4 linked regions of the Homo sapiens genome follow. The protein of the gene in region 3 purifies or fractionates together with the protein of the main gene of each other region. This does not show direct contact. Each region holds a gene or a part of one and is shown on either strand. Other genes may lie near its edges.

Region 1 (4,887 bases), on a different chromosome or scaffold from region 3:
TCAACTTCTTGCTAACTTTATAACCTTGGGCAAGATATTGAACTATTGTTTTGTCCCTCTGTTTTCTCATCCGTAAAATAAGAATAATAAGAGTAACCATCTCATGGGATTGATATGTTAATTTGTTAAATGAGGATAACATATATACATCACTTAGAACAGTACCTAACACAGAGCATGTGATCAATGTTAGCTAATAGTCATTATCTTCATTAAATATTATCTTCATTTTTAAGGAACACTTCATTAGTTCACATTAAGTAAATGAGATATTATTCATACTATACTCTGATCCACATAACATAAGCAATTAAGCGCAGAGACTGAGAGAGTTGGAAACTAAAGAGAATACAGAAGAGTGAGAGATCGATGTACACAAAGAAAACAATAGAAGAGAGGTGCTAGCCCACCACTTTGCCCACACTTCTATCAATATTTATCTCACCAGACCATAATCAGTCTCCATGTCTCTGACAGAGAGACCACAATCTATTTCCACCATAGATTGTGAGCACTTTGAGGGCAAGGACCTATTTTTACATTATCAGCCCCTAATATAGTGCCTGCAACATGGTAGACACTAAATTAACATAAAATAAAGTAATATAAGGGGACTCAGTAAGCATTGAGGTCAATGATGTGAGAACTTGGTTTTATCATATCCTAATGGGGCTGGGAGCGGAGTCAGTAAAGTTGTACTGTATTGTCACTCTTTGATTATCAATATTCTACTCCCCTATTCTTTCTGAACTGAGAAACAAATTCCAAAAAGAAATGTTTAAAAAATATTTAATCTGCTATAAAATTAGAAAATTTCCAAATGATAACACAAATTTTAGTAATTCATTTTAAGTATTAAAAATATTGCTCACTAGAAAAATTAGCCAGGTGTGGTGGTGTACAAATTGTAGTCCCAGCTACTTGGGAGACTGAGGCAGGAGGATTGTTTGAGCTCAGGAGTTCAAGGCTGCAGTGAGCTATGATCACACCTGCACGCCAGCCTGGATGACAGCGAAAGCCTGTCTCGAAAAAAAAAATTGCTCTGAATTGACTATTATACCTAAAAGTTAATCCTAATGGTCAAATGGCAAGTCATAGGAATAAATAGACACCAAATAAGAGAAGACTGAGTGTGGTGGCTCACCTCTGTAATCCCAGCAATTTGGGAGGCCAAGGCAGGAGGACTGCTTGAGCCCAGGAGTTTGAGACTAGCCTGGGTAACATAAAGAGACCCCATCTCTATAAAAATTACAAAAAATTAGCCAGGCATGGTGGCACGTGCCTTTAGTTCCAGCTACTTGGGCAGCTAAGGTGGGAGGATTGCTTGAGCCTGGGAGGCGGAGGTTGCAGGGACCTATGATCACACCTGCACTCCAGCCTAGGCAACAGAGTGAGACCCAGTCTCAAACAAAATGGAAAAAAAAAAAAAGAGAGATACACCTATTTCTTAGCTGTCAATCTGCCAGATGCAGGGAACATACCAAAAAAGAGAAGGCATGGTCACTTCCTTCTGACATCAAAATAAGCATGTTTTGAGATGAACAACCCCAAACCTCCTTGTGTGGGGGGACCCACCCCTTATTCCAGTCCCTGTGAAATATACAGCCAAAGAAACAACATAACAAAGCCACATCTTTCACAGCTGTTTGGTACAGGGGTCACCACTCTCAATCTAACCAGGACGGATCAAATTCAATTCTTCTCCAGAAATCTGGAAAGCTGGGAGACAAAACTCAAGTTGAGACATAAGGTATCACCAAGTCTGGAGGCACTACCATAACAAGCTAGTCACCTTGAAGCTGAAGCTAAGGGGAAAGCACAGAAGGTCAGTCTGCAGGGAAGAGAATGAAGCAGGGCTGGGGCTACAGGGAAAAAGTAAAGGAGGCACCTGCCTCAGGGTGTCTCAGTATTTAATAGGGTGCAAAAAAGCTCAGCAATCAAGATAAATTACACAGTAATGCATACTATTTTTTAAAAATTAAAATTAATGTCCTAAAATGGAGCAGAGGCACAGAAAGAAGCCAAAGAGAGCCCTACAAGCAGAGAGAGGACAGAGACTTTCAAAGTGTCTGCTCTGGGTACCAGTGGTAGGTCATTTCACGGACCTCAGCAGCCTTACAATAGTAATGCAGTACAACTCCCAGCTCTGCCACCATACCATCTAGCAAGATAGCTTAAGTGGGTTTGTGTTCCCGGAGACCTAAACACCTTGACTAACATACTCTATTTGGGAAAATGAGACATGCACATAAAGTGCTTTTTGTTTTTTTCAAGAAAATATATAATTAACTGCCAAAAGAATGGTACTGGCTATTAGTGTACAGAAATTCAGAGATCACTGTGGGTGGTCAGGGAGGGACAGAATTAGCTACACAGAGAGGAGTGGAGAAGTATATACTAAACAAAGAGATCAAAGCACAGGCTGAAAAAGGTTGGAGCTGGGAGGGAATCCAGGGCAAGAAGAAGAAAAGTAAAGGGAAAGGAGCGATCTTCACACACCCTGTGTTACACAGAAGTAAGTACGCCTCCATGCTCTTCCGCCTGCAGCCCTTACATCACACGGTTCATTACACAGGAAATGTCCTTTTGCACTCTTTCTCATGTTCAAATCCTTTCACATCTTTCAGGGACCAGTTCAAGTAACATTTCTGCAGAGGCTCCCCTTGTGTGCTATACCAGATTCAGGCAGTGGGAGAAGAAAAGAGGAAACAGTTTCTTCTGAGGTAGGAGGGAAGGCTAAGGGGCTTAAAGCAGTGCCAGCTATTCTCTGGTGGAGGGCACACTATATCACTTGGAATGCTGGCCAATGTCTAAGGAAAGCAGGAAGTGAGATGACTTGACAAGGAATAATAATGGGGGTTCAAGAAAAGTGGCAGAGGAAAGGCAAGCACAGAGGGTGTGCTGAGGACTAACAGAAGAGCCCACCTGCCCCGAAGGCCTTGCAGAGGTGAAATCCTACACATCTGCCTTGGTCCATTTCTGTGTAGGGTTCTGTAATTTTTCACCAAGAAACTGTAAATCTTAGGGACAACAGGAGAAAAACAAAAGTGGGGTGGGCATGACTTTGAAATCATCACATATTTATTGCTATTTCCAGTGAAATTAGACCCCCAACTCCTCAGCTGGTCTAGCACTCAAGTGGGCACATTAAAGAGGAAAAAAAAAAAAAAGAATAGTTCCCTAAGAGTATTAACCTGGGTTAATTATAGCCCACCATGAATGAAAATAAATCTTGGGGGTTGTATCATATCTTGTCACGTTTGCCTCAGGGTAAGGGCTGCCTGAATATAAGCCAGACTCATATACATTTGAGGGGCTTCTTCTGAATATTCCTTAACTCCTCATCAAAGTTTTACCACCACACCCAGGGAATGAAAATATTTTGTTGGCTGTAATTTTCCACATGGATGGAAATCCCCTACTGTATAAGTATCACTAATAATATCCTGCTCAAAAGAATTGCTATGCTATGGTTAAGGAAATACAACAATCTTCTTACCTACAAGTCTATATATATATATATCAAACCCAGCCCTCATTTTCTTCTAGTTTACCATGTTTTTATTCACTTTCTCACAGACACTTCAGGAACTGTGTTCACTTGTATGTACTTATCATGATGTTCATGCTTAGTTATGCCCAGATATGAAACTGTTTATTTGTAGGGGGTTATCATCACTGTATATGTTACCTTAGTTTGTAAGTTTGTCTTAGTGTGTTTGTGTTCCTTCCTTAGTGAGTGGGTGCAGGTGTTGAACATATATACCCGAGGCAGTGGATATCTTTATAGCTCAAAAAGGGTGCACATCTCAGGAGGAACCTTGACTGTATTTCAGTATTTTTCTTTTTTCTTTTTTCTTTTTTTTTTTTTGAGACGGAGCATCACTCTGTCACCAGGCTGGAGTGCAGTGACATGATCTCGGCTCACTGCAACCTCCACCTCCCAGGTTCAAGCGATTCTCCTGCCTCAGCCTCCCGGGTAGCTGGGACTACAGGTGTGTGCCAACATGCCTGGCTAATTTTTGTATTTTTAGTAGAGACGGGGTTTCACCATGTTGGCCAGGATGGTCTCGATCTCCTGACCTCGTGATCCACCCGCCTCAGCCTCCCAAGGTGCTGGGATTATAGGCGTGAAAACGAATTCTTAAGAGTAGTATAAGGGTGAAAGAAGCCAGGCACAAAATATGACATATTATATGATTCCATTTATATGAGATGTCCAGAAGAGGCAAATCTTAAGAGAGAGTAGATTAGTGGTTGCCTAGGGCTGGGTGGGGGAGACCAGGGGGGAATTGGGAGGAATTAGGTAGTAACTGCTAATGGTAAGGGGTTTATTTCTGGTGTGATGAAAATGTTCTAAAATGGTGGTGATGGTTCTACAGTTCTGAATGTAGCAAAATCCACTGAACTGTACACTTTAAATGGGTGAATTGTATGGTGTGCGAATTATATCTCACTAAAGCTGTTATATGTTAGAGAAAGGGGGAAGGAATGAATAAGGAAACCAAAGTTGTCCTGCATTTCCACAGAAAGGTAATCCTGTCTTTGAAAATCTTAGCTTTTTTCTGCTTCTATTTTAGTTAAGCTTTAGGATTCAAGACTCCTCACTGGTAAGTCCCCAGTTGTCTTTTCTCCATCTCTAATCTTTGTCTTTACTAACAAGGGTGATCTACCTAAGGGAGACAGCATTCACTAGTTACAACTCAATCTCTGAACAAAAAACAATATGCACACTATGATTACAATCATATAAAAATACGTATGAGAATGAATCAGGCCTGGAAAGAAATGAGGAAAAGTAAAAATAGCTACATAAGAATAATGAGGTTGGGGTGACATTCTTTTTAAAACTTAGTGTATTATCAGCAAATAAACTTAGAAGAAAAA
Region 2 (4,887 bases), on a different chromosome or scaffold from region 3:
CAGTGGCACCTGGGGGCAGCCCTGCCTGTTAGGCACAGGCTGAGAGGTAGGGCAGGAGGAGTTCCATCTCTTCTGGCAGGCTCTTCTTGAACAAGCGCCTCCGGTGATTCTTGTGCACCCTGAAGTTAGGGAGCTCTTTCCTGCTCATGATTTCTGGCAGGGTGGCCAAGCCACTAGTGGTCACCTGGGAGTGAAATGTGCCCCGACGGACCTTGCCTGATAACTCTTCCATCTCAGTGTAGTTTAAATCTGTTCTTGCAATCTGTATGGACACTCTAGGTAGCCTTCTGGCATTGCTACTGCAGCAGCCTTGGAACGTGATTTGGGACACAACACAGCTCAATTTCAGGCACAGTGGTTGGCTTTTAAAGTGCTGTTTTTTTGGAGAGGGAGTCTCTCGCTCTGTCACCCAGGCTGGAGTGCAGTGGCACGATCTTGGCTCACTGCAGCCTTTGCCTTTGGGTTCAAGTGATTCTCATGCCTCAGCCTCCCAAGTAGCTGGGATTACAGGCACTTACCACCACGCCCGGCTAATTTTTGTATTGAAATTCTTTATCCTTAAACAAATTATTAGTATACACAAACAGCTTAAATAATGAAGCAGAACAAAAAATGAAAATTCGATTTGAAGTGCATTCCTTCCCTAAACCTCCTTCTCCAGAAGCGTATCTAAGCCAGCCCCAATTTGCAGATTGGCTTGTATCCTTCCACATGCTTTCCCATCCATTCATGAACATAGAAAGATGTGTAAAAAGGTTTTCCTCCAATTACATGGAATTACAAATTTTCTGACTTTTTTCATTTAACTGTATCATAGCTAGCTAGCTTTCTTTCTTTTTTTTTTTTTTGTTTCGAGACGGAGTTTTACTCTTGTTGCCCAGGCTGGATTACAATGGCGCGATCTCAGCTCACCACAACCTCCACCTCCCAGGTTGAGGCAATTCTTCTGCCCCAGCCTCCCGAGTAGCTGGGATTACAGGCATGCGCCACCACGCCTGGCTAATTTATTTTGTATTTTTAATAGAGACAGGGTTTCTCCATGTTGGTCAGGGTGGTCTCGAACTCCTGACCTCAGGTGACCCGCCCACCTCGGCCTCCCAAAGTGCTGGGATTACAGGCATGAGCCACTGCGCACGGCTATCGTAGCTTCATAGCTAGCTTTCTATGCCACCACATACATCCACCTTATTCTTTTTTTTTTTTTTTTTTTTTTGTGAGACAGTCTCGCTCTGTCATCCAGGCTGGAGTGCAGTGGCATGATCTTGGCTCACTGCAACCTCTGCCTCCTGGTTTAAGCTTGTGCCTCAGCCTCTCAAGTAGCTGGCATTACAGGCGTGCACCATCACACCTGGGTGATTTTTTTTTTTTATTTTTTTTTTATTTTTAGTAGAGACGGGGTTTTGCCATGTTGGCCAGGTTGATCTGGAAGTCCTGGCCTGAAGTGATCCGCCCACCTCAGCCTCCCAAAGTGCTGGGATTACAGGCATGAGCCACCCACCTTATTCTTTTTGATTACCATATGGTACTCCTTAGTTTGCAAGTATAGTACCTTAATTTTTATTCATTCATTTTCCTTTTGATGGACTTTTAGGTTGCTTCTGGGTTTTGTGTTACAAATACTGCTGCAGTGAGCATCCTCATATACACATCTTTGAGTAGTGCCTTGGTTGCTACAGTGGGGCAGGTTCCTAGAAGTGGAATTGCCACTAGGGTTAATGCTGGGTTAATTGCTCTCCAAAAAGAGTGTACCTGTAGTACTCCCCCTTGGCGTGAACAAGAGTGACTGTTTTCCACACCCTCACTGACACTGGATATTATTTACGTTTTTGCCAGACTGCTGGTTAAGTGAGCTTCTGAAACACAGATGTGGTAGTCACTCAACAGTGGCTCTTGGTGGCCCTTAGAATAAAATCCATGCATGGTATTGAGGTCAGAAGCAACCAGTGCTTCTGATGGCACTTGGTCTCCTCAGCCTGAGATCAGCTCTCCTTAGGCCGAGGTGGGAGCAGGCAGGGAGTGGAGGTCATTGCTAGTTGAGGGTCTCCCCAACTCCCCCACTCTTGGTGATGCTGCAACAGTGAGCCTGCAGAGGGAGCTCTTACTTCCTGGTTGCATTGTAATGAGTTCCTATTGTCAGATTCCAAGTTTCTACTTTTTTCCCCATTGCTAAATAATACTTTGATGCTCATTGCTCATTCACTCATCAAACACATTTATATTGAATGCCTATTATGTGCCAGGGCTTAGCATCTTTATATACGTAACTTTTTCCATATTTTGGATAAATTTATGCATGACAGGCTCTGGGGTGCTTTGAATTCAAAGAGGTGATTTTGGGGGTAGGTGTATGGGGTAGGGTGGGGTGGGGGCACGGTGAGCACAGCAGCTGTCATTGCCATTCAGCTGATGAGCCAAGAAGGATGTGTACCCCCAAGACAGAGGTTACGTAAGTATTATGCAGACTGTGCTGGGTGATAGATACACTATCCTTCCCCTCTGTGCTTCCAGTATGGGCCGGATTTTCATTCCTCAGCTGGAATGGGGCTTGCATAATTTGTTCAAGGTCAGCCAAGGAAAGGTTGGGTAGGTAGACTGGCAGGCTGTGGAGGGGAACCAGGGACTCCTGTATCCTGGTGTGACTTGCTGGTCCTTCTCAAAGTCTTCAGTGACTGCAGGCAGGTCTGCTCAGCCTGGCCCTGCCCATCCCTCTGTTTCCTACCAACCAGTGGGAACAAAGCCCCCAGGCTCTGCCCTGAAGCCATCACTCAGGCAGAGAGGCCTGTGGTTCTGACTCCCCCAGGACGCCCTCTGACTTCTGTCTGTCCAGGGCTAGCTGCTTTGCCGATGCCAGACTGCCCTGCTTCATGCGCAGCCTCTAGAGGCTCAGCTTGTGAAGGCCCCTGGGGGGTGGATGCTGCAGAGACAGCTGTGTATCAGTAGCTAACTGTACAGGCTCCGATTTGGAGCAGATCTGGGTGGAAGGAGTGACTGGGAGGGGTGGGGGCCAGGGTTCAGCCTTCAAGTCAGCACCCTGGCAGGGTGTTAAGTGAAAGCAGGCTTTGTTGCCGACTTTTCTTTCCTCCAGTCCTCGCCTTAGAAAATTAATGCAGATTATTATTTCTATCATAAAATTGTCTCTGAAATGGGTTCGAGAGCTGTGTAAAAATGGGCATTTTGGGGGTGCTGTCTGTAGCTGTAAGAAAGCTGAACTTCTCGGAGCGGCAGAGCTGTCTCGGGCCTTCCTTAGTTCCGTCAGATCAGTGCAGCAGGGGATGGGCCGAAGTGCACAAAAAGGAGGGGAAGCTACCACTACCTGGCAGTTGGGGGCCTTTAGTGAAAGGGTGAGTCATCCTTTTGCTGTCCTCGGTGGTGTCACTTCAGGCCCAGGAGTGGACTTGACTCCATTCAGCCAGTGGTTTCTGTGAGTCTTCCTTGCCAGGTGCTATGCTGGGGAGAATGCTTACTTGGGGGCCCAGAACGGGGGAGATTATGCTTCATTGTCGGTGTTCAAGGAGATGGGGAAGAGAGCAAGACACAGATGAGAAAGCCAGCATCCAGTATGTTTACAGTGAGGCATTGGATAGGGATATGTTTTAGTGAACCAGCAAGTTCACTTGCGTGCTGCTGGTACCAACTACATGGTTGTGTTGTGGAACCCCACAGCCCCAAAAGAGCTTGGCCGTGTCGGAGCTCCTAGAGGCCCCAGGAGGGGTCCGGTCTGCTCTTCTGAGCTCTGCTCTCTGAGTGCCTTGTCCTTGGGTGGTAATCTCTTTAGTGGCCTTGTACTTCAGGCTGATGTTTGCTGTGGGTGGGGTGTTTTTTGACAGGTGGCTGTGCTTGTTGGATTTTGGGGATTAGCGATGAGAGAGGGCATTTGGGGAACATTTAATGGATGAGTGCTCTGCCTTTATCCTGAGCGGGGACCAGTCCAGATGTGAAGGCTGCTGTGTCTGGGAGGCGTCTCTTCTGTGGGGTCAGGGGAGAGTCGTGGGGAAGGCTCTGGCTCCTAAGGTCCAGGGAGGTCTTAGGTGACCCACAGATATTACCACTGGACTGCTTCTCCTTCTGCTTCCCCAGCCCCCACCCCGGCTGAGTTTGTGGCCCCCCTGGGAGGCATAGCACTGAAGAGGGGTACTTGGTTCACTGATGGTTTGTTAACCCTGTCGGGTGGAGAATGTTCTGGGCCCGTTACTGTTATGTTCTGTGTCTGCCTGGGGTTACATTGCCTCAGCTTTCAATCCAGAGTTGTTCTCCTAGGAAGGTGTCAGGTAAAGGGTATTTCTTGAGGTTCTGGTGGGTGGTTTCCTGGTCTATCCCGGGGGGATGCACCTACAGGGTTAGTTTGGGAGGGAGGAACAAGTGGGGAGAGGGGAGCCCCCAGACTGGAAAGAGCCAGTGGCGGGCAGTGTAAAATGGATCTTCCCCCCTCATCTCTCTACCCTGATACTAATGTGGGCTGACCTGTCCATGGTTTCAGCCTGATCATGTGCAAGAAATAACACAGCAGCGACAAAAATAGGACAGAGTAAACAGCTCGCTGCTCTTCTGTCTGTGCTCTGACACAAAAGTGAGCTGGGATAAAATTAACAAAGCATCTGGAAAAAGTAAAGTAGGACCTGGATCACAACTTCACAATTTAAAATTGTAGAAGTTTATACTGTTTCTTTTACAACATACTCAGTGAGTCTGTGGCCTCCTGCAATGCCTTTGAAGTTAAAGCTTTGGCCAAGAATGCAACTTCCATTGATGATATGGAAGCATATCATGTCATATGACATGCCAGGAGCATGTCATATATGTGTTTATTTGTGTGAATATATATACATGTAACTTCAGATGGTATATATGCAGATGAATTTTGATAATTTAGGTATACTGTATTTTAAA
Region 3 (4,887 bases):
CTCTACAGTTGATTCTGATTAAGATACTGGTTAAGATGCATGGGTATATAGGCAGATTGGGCAGCATTGTATAACCTAAATTTGCTAACTGTTAAAACATGCTCTCTTACTATCAGGGGAAGTAATGTGGTATATTGAAAAGGTTAACTGCTTGGAACTTAGGAGCTGTGTGTTTTGGAACTATCTTACCACTAATTAACTGGATGACTTTGGTCAAGTCACTTGGTTTGTTATTTCATTCAACAAATATTTATTGAGATTCTGCCGTGTGCCACGCACTGGGTATATACGAATGAAAAAAAAATAGAGGTTCCTGTCCTTATATATCTGACAGACCAATAAGACAGGGCAGACATTAATCGAAGAAACCTACAAATACATACATAATTTTACTTGGTGTGGCTAGGCTTTGGAGAATAAAAAATAGATCACTGGTTCATATTTTAAAAAGAATTTCTACTTAAGATCCCAAATTTCCTGTCCCAACCTTCCCACACATAATATAATTATATGTTTTAAGTCCACTCATTAATAAAACACAAAAACACAAACTTAAAAGCTACTATGAATTCAATAACTCTTTTAAATAAATTAGCATTTTATCATTATAATGTATGTATAGAATTAGAAAAATAGTAGCACATATGATGTAAGATATATTATTTACTCAGAGTAGCTTGCCAAAAGCACTTGCTGCATATACAGATTTGTTTACCTCTTGCAATGACTTTGTGGCCTCCCAGGGATCCACCACCCAGAGGTTAAAAACCTACAGACCACATTAATGAAGACTAAAACATGGTACTTGAGTAGATATGGCCCTTCTCTTCCACAACAGATATCACTATCAGTGACCACATTTTCCCCTCCCCTCTGAGCTTAGATTCATCCTCAGAATCCTTCTTAACATGCCAATTGGTTGGAGCTGGCATACAGATGAAAAGTTATATGTACTCCTTGGGCTGAATGAGCTCCTAAGGTCTTGCCCAGCTTAAAAATTCTATGAATTTATATATTCAGTTCTGTTCTGCTGCCTTGAGAAACACAAATGCCTTCTCCCATGTTCATATAAAAGTACCCCAAATATTAGAAGATATTTATGTGGCCTCATTTTCTTTTCTTTGGGATAAACAGCTCTAGATCCCTTATCGGTTCAGCATATGTTTTGCCTCCTGACTCCCTCCAGCCTTTGATGCTAACCCTAGAATGCATATGTATCCATGCCTTTCAGAAAAATGAGCCCAGAACAGAGCACAAGTTCCCAAATGGGATCCGAACTATGCAGAACTCAGGGGATATTTTAGTCCACTTGACAAACACCATGATGGGTGCTCAATGGATTAAAAATTACATAGCAAATATTGCTTAGATCTGAAACTTCCAGTGATTAAGAGTACACCAGCTTTTATGCATTCACCTTATTATGTACTGTGGTTTACATTGAGTTGTGCTTGTTTTTATTTATTAAAATTGTTAAATGATTACATATTAAATCTTCAAGACTGCTTTCATTTGAAGGGAGCCATATCACATGGAAGATTCATATGAAGTTTCTTGCCAACAATAATATCCAGAATGTTTTTTCCCAAAATCTTTCTGAGATGGATGATTCTTATCCTTTCAGTTACCAGTGGTGCAAACTTCTAGATTAATCTCCCTTAACACTGGCTCAGTGGGTCACAGTGATCATCAAGAACTGTGTGATCATTCATTGGGTGTTTGCCTCTCTAGGAGTTTATTCACCTCAAAATTCAAATGATTCCCATTGAGAGCTGTTGGACATTTCAGCTAATTTGCCTTCCATGCTCAATTTCTCTTCTAACTAAAATTACCCATTGAGCTCTTCTTTGCCCAGGGGTGACCACTGCCTGGATTAGAGTAATTCATCCTTAGGCGCGCCTGTGCCTTTGATGTCCTCCTCCTACTAAAGGATTTGCCAAAGACAATAGTCTTTGACTGAACCAATCAGATCTCCTCTCTCAGGACTGGACCTGGAAACACAGAAGAAATTTTCCAGTTGATAGAACAACAGAAAGAGGCAGACACGTGCGCTGAGCTGAGTCACACTAGTGGAAAGGGATGGAGTAAATATCCATGGACCGCGGCTGGGATCCTCTCACCCACCTTGACTCTAACTCTACTCTCTTTGGGCCCTGGTCCTATTTGGGCTTCTGCTCTTGGATATCCCTGTGATTTCATCCGTTCGTTAATCTGTGTCTTACAATCCTGGCCCTTTACTTGAGCTACCAAAGTTTGCTCACATAGAGGTCTATTTCTTCCTAACACTGGGCCATGTGCTCTCCCAGACTTCACCTTATTCATCCATACACTACTTCACTAAGCTCTGCCTGACTTCTGATTTTTGCTGTTTCTTCTTTACTCACCTGGCTGTCATGCACAACTTAGCCCATTTTTGTAACTGATATCCATTCTGGCTTAGACTGGTCCTCCTGACCCCAGTGGAACTAATATCTTTGATGCCAACTGGTCCTTGGCCCTCTTGGGCACTTTGCCTTGGTCCTTCTGGTCTTCAGCACAAGGTGAAGTCAGCCTGGTTCCCCAGCAATGTATCTTGAGACAAGCGAGGGGGAATGTTATATGTGGGTGTCAGAGGAACTAATTATATATTCCTGCTTAATATGTTTCTCTCCAAGTGAGATTATTCCCTTTTAGTCAAGTGCTTTCATGGAGTATTCACAAAACAATGCCAGAAGCCTCAGGATACCATCAAAAAGCAATTTATCTTCAAGTTATACATCATTTATACATATACATATATTTTCAAAGAAAAGCCATGTACTAAAATGAGTGCCCGATATACTAAAATCTTTTAAAAATGTATTTTCCTTCAACTATTCCCTTACTGCTGCTTAGCAAGCCTTTTATTAACTTCTGGGTGTTCTTTTTACGTACACTTAATAGCAGCCATTCCTGGATTTCTCTAGCCCCCACGAGCTCCCCATAGAAAATTGCTTCTTTTCTGGAAATGACCTCTTTTTCTTTGAAATGGAGGTCATATGACGCAATCTCCACCTATATATCTGTGTATTTACCCCCTCTTTTCTTCCTTCCAGATCATGGACACCTCCACTCATGTTCTGATCCCATCCACCCTTGTCTTCTATGGGAATCCAGATCTGACCCCACTCCCCATCTTACATGCCCCAGCTCAAAGGTCTCTTACCTGTCAATCATGAAGCGTGGGTTTACAAAGGGACCTTAAGGGTTCACAGTTTTTATCAGATTCTCAAAGGTTTCCATAGCAACAACACAGGGAAGAACAACACAGGGAACAACCTCATCACCCCTCCCTCACAGCCCAGGTCATAGTTTCCCCCCGACCCCGCTCCCATAGCCTTACCCACAGCCTGCCAATTATGAGTTTGGGGTGAGAAGCAGAGTGGGTCCTTACCACAAAACATGCTCTGACATCTCCTCTGTCTGTGCAAGTGGCTTTCCCTAGCTAGAACCTATCTGTGCTAGAGTGTTCTGCTGTACTCTGGGCCTCATCTTAGAGCTGGCCCCTGCAAATTGTCAATGTTGGATCAAGAAAGCTCCCTATCCGGTACAGGGATGGGGGAGCTGGGGAAGAGGTTACAGGTGGAGGCCTGGGGGTAAGGAAGTTAGGGATGCAACTAGGGTCGGTTACAGCTGGGAGCACTAAAGACAGAAGCAAAGAGGTGAGAGGCGAGCTCCGTGGAGCAGTCTGGTTTCAATACCAACAGGAACCACAGCCAGGTGTTCCTGCCTTCCTTGCCCTTCCTACAAGGCCCAGGCATGACGTTCCGGGGTTCATTCCATGCTTTTGGCTGGAGGCAGAGAAGCTGCCTCAATTACTTAAGGGCTTTCTGTTGTCAGCACTTTCTCACTGGTCTTATGCTCAAGTGGATCTTTGGATTTCCTGGTGCCTTGTACCACTGATGGCCCATCTTATTCCACTTCCTTATATTTGTGTCCTCTTAGTCTGTGATCATCAAAGTAAAAATTCAGACAACATTGGGATAGACCAGTATTCACTGGACACGGCTCAGGGCTCTAGAAATAACCAGGAGCGAGAAGATATCACTCAAGGGTCCTTAAATACGAGAAAGGAAGAGATCATTAGGGATACTAGGTAAGAAGTGGAGGATACCAGCCAAGATGAGCATAATGTCCAGAGGACTCAAATGATAGGCAGTTCAGGGTATAGAATCTGCAGGGAAGAGGGAGCAAACAGCTTCATCTCATTTGGACGTCTTAACCACTGTGGGACATCGGAGAAGCATTACCAATGTCCGTTCTTCACTCAACAGATGAAGTCAAAAGCTGATGATTTCCTCAAAAAGGTCAGGGTTACTTAAGCAGAGGAACCAATACTAGAACTGAGATGTTGTAGTGGTTCTCATAAGTTAAGCCTGTGCCAAAAGTTTCTCTTTAAACTACCCATCTACTCAGGACTTATGGGCATCTCTCCAATAGCAAACTTGGATTAGCCTGACAGATGAAGGACTTTCAGTAAGGAGCTAATGGTATCTTCTCAGGCCCTAAGAGAACTTAACGCAGAAAACGCCCTTTTGAAGTCTGAAAATTCTTTGGCAGCATCTTTCTAACCTCCTCCTTAGTCCTACCATGCTATTTGCATACCACTCTATCAGCATTTTTCCTGTCCCCCGACCACATTTCTGAGACATGTGATAGACTACAGGCAAATGGGGAACTAGCAAATCTCTTTTCATGCCCATCTCTGAATCACTTTTGCGTCTTGCTAAGGAATGACTAACTGGTAATCATGCTATCAAGAAAATGGCAAATGGAGACAATTACATGTGTTTCTACAAAAATGCCTGCTGAGGTGCATTTTATTTATCAGAACAGAGAATACCTGGGCTAGATTCTGGACCTTTACAT
Region 4 (4,887 bases), on a different chromosome or scaffold from region 3:
CTCAAAGCTAATTTCAAGCAAGAGAATTATCAACCTGGGGATCATATGTAGATAAAGATGCTCTCTCTTGACCCTGAAACCACCTCCGTGGACTTTAACTGGAAGCTGAGGAGAGTGTATGGGAGGGAAACTCTCCGATCTTGCCGCCATCCTGCCCCATCCCACACTACTGATCAAAAGACACTCCCTTAAGAGTAATATTTAATTTTTCCAAAGTAACATTCCCCAGACCTAAATACTTGCTGGAATTCCCATTCCCTAACCCAAGATTTATGAACTGGGAATAGTCAGGGTACAAACAGGCTCACAAGAGGTGGAACAAACACAGGTCAACCACATCTTCCATGTTTGTAATGCATTTCGCTTTACATCACAAATTGAGTACATGAGGCCGGGCTCGGTGGCTCATGCCTGTAATTCCAGCACTCTGTGATGCTGAGGTGGGCAGATCACCAAAGGTCAGGAGTCTGAGACCACCCTGGCCAATATGGCGAAACCCCATCACTATTAAAGTACAGAAATTAGCTGGGTGTGGTGGTGCATGCCTGTAATCCCAGCTACTCGGGAGGCTGAGGCAGGATAATCACTTGAACCTGGGAGGCCGAGGTTGCAGTGAGCTGGATCGCACCACTGTACTCCAGCCTGGGTGACAGAGCAACTCTGTCTCCAAAAAAAAAAAAAAAAAAAAAAAATGAGTGGGTGGGGTAGGTTTCTAAAATATTGTAAAGTAAAAATAATAATTATGATAATATCATATCTTCATTACTTAGCAGCTGATTGTGCAGAATGAGTATTATAAAACACTTAATTTTTCCCTTCCATGCTATCTACCTTTTGACCACTTACTGCTTGAAAGAAGGGAAATAACTTGAACAAGTCAAGATAAACAATTGACTAAGTTTAATTTAATTTTAATCAATGCTTTTTTTTTAATAACTCTGGCCAAAAGATCTAATAAAGGAAATGGTTACGTTAGGATGTTATTTTTATTACAGTGGCCAATCTAGTAGAAAGAACACTGGATAGGCTGCCAGGGAAGCAAGTCAGAAGATCCATCTTAGTTCTGGTTCTGCTAACAGAACTAAGATCTGGAGCACGTCAATTCGCCTGTCTTCATTTTGTTTCAACAGGAGTTTCTCCATACTCAACATGGTGAGAGTGAACTACATGTTCTTTCTGCTCCAACTTTCTGGACTCCCACAGATACTGGTTAAATAACACAGGAGTGCTCATTACATAATGCAGGAAATGGAAATGACCACAGAACAGAAATAGTTTTAGTGATAAGGTGGCAGCTACCTAATTGGGAAAAGATTTCACCGGACTGTTGCCCATGACATTCCAAAGGCATGGTAAATTGTTTTAGCATAACATAGTGGGAAAAAGGCCTGGTCAGAGTTATGGTAATGTAATATAATATGGGTATTTGATTGAGCATGATGTATAAGAAAGGTTTTGTCTGCATTCCCATGGCTTGCAGTTTCCTTAATAAATCTTAAGCTGTTTTTGAAAAGCTACTTCTGCAATGACGTAAGCAGTGAGGCAGCCAGACATCACTTCTCAATCCCCTCTGAATATCTCTTGGCTGTGCGGCACTATTCACACTGGGTCTGCACTGGTCAAAAGAATGTAGGAGCTGGGTTTCTTTTGCCTTTATCTTTCCTTGTTTTAGCAGTAGGGTGGTCAAGAAAGAAATCTTGGAAAACTCTTGTAATCTTTAACTTTTTTGCTATTTCATAGGCTAGTTCCATGAACATACTGCCATCTAGGGCAGTCACATGCAATGTGCAAACAAAACATTCTAAGATGATCAACACCAATTCCCACTGAATTAGCAGCAAGTCTCAGAAAAAGCTGACCTGGCTTAAGGCCATCGATAAACAGTGGCATACACAATATTTTCTTTCCTTTTACTTTGTAAAGTAAGGAAAAGCACTTCATCTAATAAAATCAACCTAACACACTAAACAAGTATCTCCTGTAAAAATCCTCTCAAAAACTTTTTGACTAACCCTGTTACTCTATATCTTATTAATCTGTTTCTTTGTATAGCAATTACCTACAACCTCTAGTTTCCCACACAACAGTAAAATGATTTTTACACTTGGGTTTCTCTTATTGACCACTAGCTGCTATAGACAACTATCTTGCCTTTAAAGCAGATACAGCACAAAGCTCCTTTTCTGCAATGTCTAAGAAACATCCTTAAGCGTCATGAAAACAACTGTAAGCAAATTAACTCCCAGAAGGTTCAAATTCCTGGATGAACATAGAGAGAAGTTCTGCCTTGCTAAATGTTTACTTTGAAGGGATTTGAAAATCTGAGCTAACAATTTTGGTTTCATTTATTTTTAAAAGACAAGTTACTTTAATCAAATCCCAATAAATATTTCTAGCCAACAGTTATTTTTTTAAAAACTACTCCTGTCTCCTCTCCCATCATCTGAAAAACAGTAACAAGAATGGCCAGATGAAAGATGATAATGAAAAGACTGCTACACCCCTTTTGCATAGTACCTGCGGGGGGGCAGATCCCTTAAAAGGGCTATCACTCTTGAGTCATTTCTAAATATATCACTATGTACTTGGCTTTGAGGTGCACCCTTTGGCTAGTTGTCAAAATGATAAGAAACTATCTTAACACTTTTCAGAGGTTTTATGTCTCCCACCAAAGGCATACTAAAAACTTTCCTATATGGCCAGAACCTGTCAGATTTGAGTATTAGATAAAATAACTACCACAGGAGGACAGCTTGGCACCCAGAACTAGAATCTATAATCATGAGCCTAATGGCTAACCATAGCAATGTAAACAGGAGAGTATACATGTTTGTAATTAATCAGGCTATGGTGTACAACTTTTCTGATAATCATAAACTCATTAAGGTAACTCCTTTCTATAAACAGCCATTCACAAATACCATGCTTTTTAAACTCTCCCAAGTAATTAACAATAACTTTCTTTACTATCATTTTCTTTCCCATTAGGTAAACACATGGAATGGTAGAGACTGTGGGTGCAGGAGAAAGTACAATAGAACAGGAGGCTTGCAGATTCTGCCGCTATCTAACCCAGTTAGTTGGTTGGAGGGAAAAGATTCAGATAAGAGGATTTCTAAGGTTCCTTTTACCCCCATAGTTATTTTGTTCTACATGCTGAAAGAATAGCTAAGCTTGAATTGTCTTCTGATTCTTAATCCTAGTTCTATGCAATTGAATTTATATTAGATATCCCCTCATCAGCTTATGAATTTCTCCCACAATTTCCCCAACACTTGCTCATTTCCATATATGCCAGGTGTCTTTTTTTCTTCCATACTCAGGAGGCCTCTGTAATTCTCCCTTCTGTCCAAGCCAGCCCTATCCATTCATGTACTCTACTCTTAACCGATAAGGCAGGGAGGAACAGAAAATCTCAAATGTTCTGTTTTGTACCTGGATTCAAAAGCAACATCTGCTATGTCTGTGGAACCATCTGTTGCCTACTTTGCCATGGAAAGGACAGTACAGGCATCAGAAGTGGAGTGTCACAGGTCATATAATGGAATTACCCCTTTCTGGGACTGGGGCACCCAGGCACGTGCCCCACAGTCTCTATGGCTAATGCCACCCCTCCCCCATCGAAGCATTTATTTATTTTCTCACAGGGAATGGTGCTTTGAAACTTTTACACAAGGTCAGGTCCAGTGTGTTTTGTTTTTTGTTCCCATTTGCCTGAATCTCTATTTTAAAATTTTTAACTCCTGGGTTGTACCTAGAACTTTGTCTGCCCGCCCTTAGCTCGCTTGAGACCTTATGAGTCCTAAAGCTCTGAGTGTCTCAGTTTTTTACATCTATAAAAAGAAGGGGTAGAAATTAAGTGATCTCTGAGGCTCCCTTGTGCTCTAATGCTCCCAAATCCCATGACTTTAATCCATCTCAAAGTTGTCAATGAACACAAGTTCCTCGACCTCTATGGTATATTAAGACTCTAAATGGCAAGGACAAAAGAATCTGCTGCATACAAAACGGCTTCTATGATAAGGGTCTCTTGTTTAACACAGTTAAACAAGTTTCTTGAGGATCCAAATCAGATTAAGATGCCTAATCTTGTTAACCTACTCCCCCAGGCAATACTGTAGTGCAGGGTTTGGGGCTGCATAATTGTTTTTGTGTCCCGTGCATGGCAGGGTGCTTAACCGCATCCCAGGCCTCTACCCACTATATGGCAGTAGCACTCTCCTCCTGTCAGTTGCTACAACCAAAAATACGTTGCCAGTATCCTCTGGGGGCCAAAACCCCTCTCCCAGTGAAAACCACAGCTCTAATGTATGTCAGGACTTTAAGATAAAGCACATCACTTAGGTGTTTTTGTTTCAAAAGAGTGACATTTACACAATCAACAATTGGTACACCAAGACTTTACAGATAGATTCATAAGGCACAGGTACTCCACCTAGAAAATGTACAAAGCCACTGTCACTCTAAGCCATCCACAGCACCATAGCACTGCCTCCCTGCTAAGGGTTGAAAATCAGGATATAAAGCCATAACGTTAACTACTCCTTTAAAAATATTTAAAAGGAGACCGGGTGTGGTGGCTCATGCCTGTAATCCCAGTACTTTGGGAGGCCAAGGCAGGTGGATCACCTGAGGTTAAGAGTTTGAGACCAGCCTGACCAACATGGCAAAATCCTGTCACTACTAAAAATAGAAAAATTAGCCAGGTGTGGTGGCAGGCGCCTGTAATCCCAGCTACTCGGGAGGCTGAGGCAGGAAAATGGCTTGAACCAAGGAGGCAGAAGTTGTAGTGAGCCGAGGTAACTTCTCCAATGAACTCGAGAGTCAACCCTTGCTTATAGATCTCAAAATGGAGCTTTGAAGAAAATAGGGAAAACCAGAGATTGG

Evidence for each region.
Region 1: the proteins of CALD1 (region 3) and TMOD3 purify together in Homo sapiens (affinity purification with mass spectrometry; one large-scale study listed by BioGRID and IntAct). This does not show direct contact.
Region 2: the proteins of CALD1 (region 3) and VDAC1 purify together in Homo sapiens (affinity purification with mass spectrometry; one large-scale study listed by BioGRID and IntAct). This does not show direct contact.
Region 4: the proteins of CALD1 (region 3) and PHLDB2 purify together in Homo sapiens (affinity purification with mass spectrometry; one large-scale study listed by BioGRID and IntAct). This does not show direct contact.

What each region holds. Positions count from the first base shown.
Region 1 is NC_000015.10:51,835,708-51,840,594, reverse strand, and holds part of TMOD3 (tropomodulin-3), read right to left. Parts: intron 1-4,887. UniProt on the Homo sapiens protein: Blocks the elongation and depolymerization of the actin filaments at the pointed end. The Tmod/TM complex contributes to the formation of the short actin protofilament, which in turn defines the geometry of the membrane skeleton.
Region 2 is NC_000005.10:133,994,034-133,998,920, reverse strand, and holds part of VDAC1 (non-selective voltage-gated ion channel VDAC1), read left to right. Parts: intron 1-4,887. UniProt on the Homo sapiens protein: Non-selective voltage-gated ion channel that mediates the transport of anions and cations through the mitochondrion outer membrane and plasma membrane.
Region 3 is NC_000007.14:134,782,014-134,786,900, reverse strand, and holds part of CALD1 (caldesmon), read right to left. Parts: intron 2,572-4,887; exon of another isoform or gene 2,385-2,571; intron 1-2,384. UniProt on the Homo sapiens protein: Actin- and myosin-binding protein implicated in the regulation of actomyosin interactions in smooth muscle and nonmuscle cells (could act as a bridge between myosin and actin filaments).
Region 4 is NC_000003.12:111,861,820-111,866,706, reverse strand, and holds part of PHLDB2 (pleckstrin homology-like domain family B member 2), read right to left. Parts: intron 1-4,887. UniProt on the Homo sapiens protein: Seems to be involved in the assembly of the postsynaptic apparatus. May play a role in acetyl-choline receptor (AChR) aggregation in the postsynaptic membrane.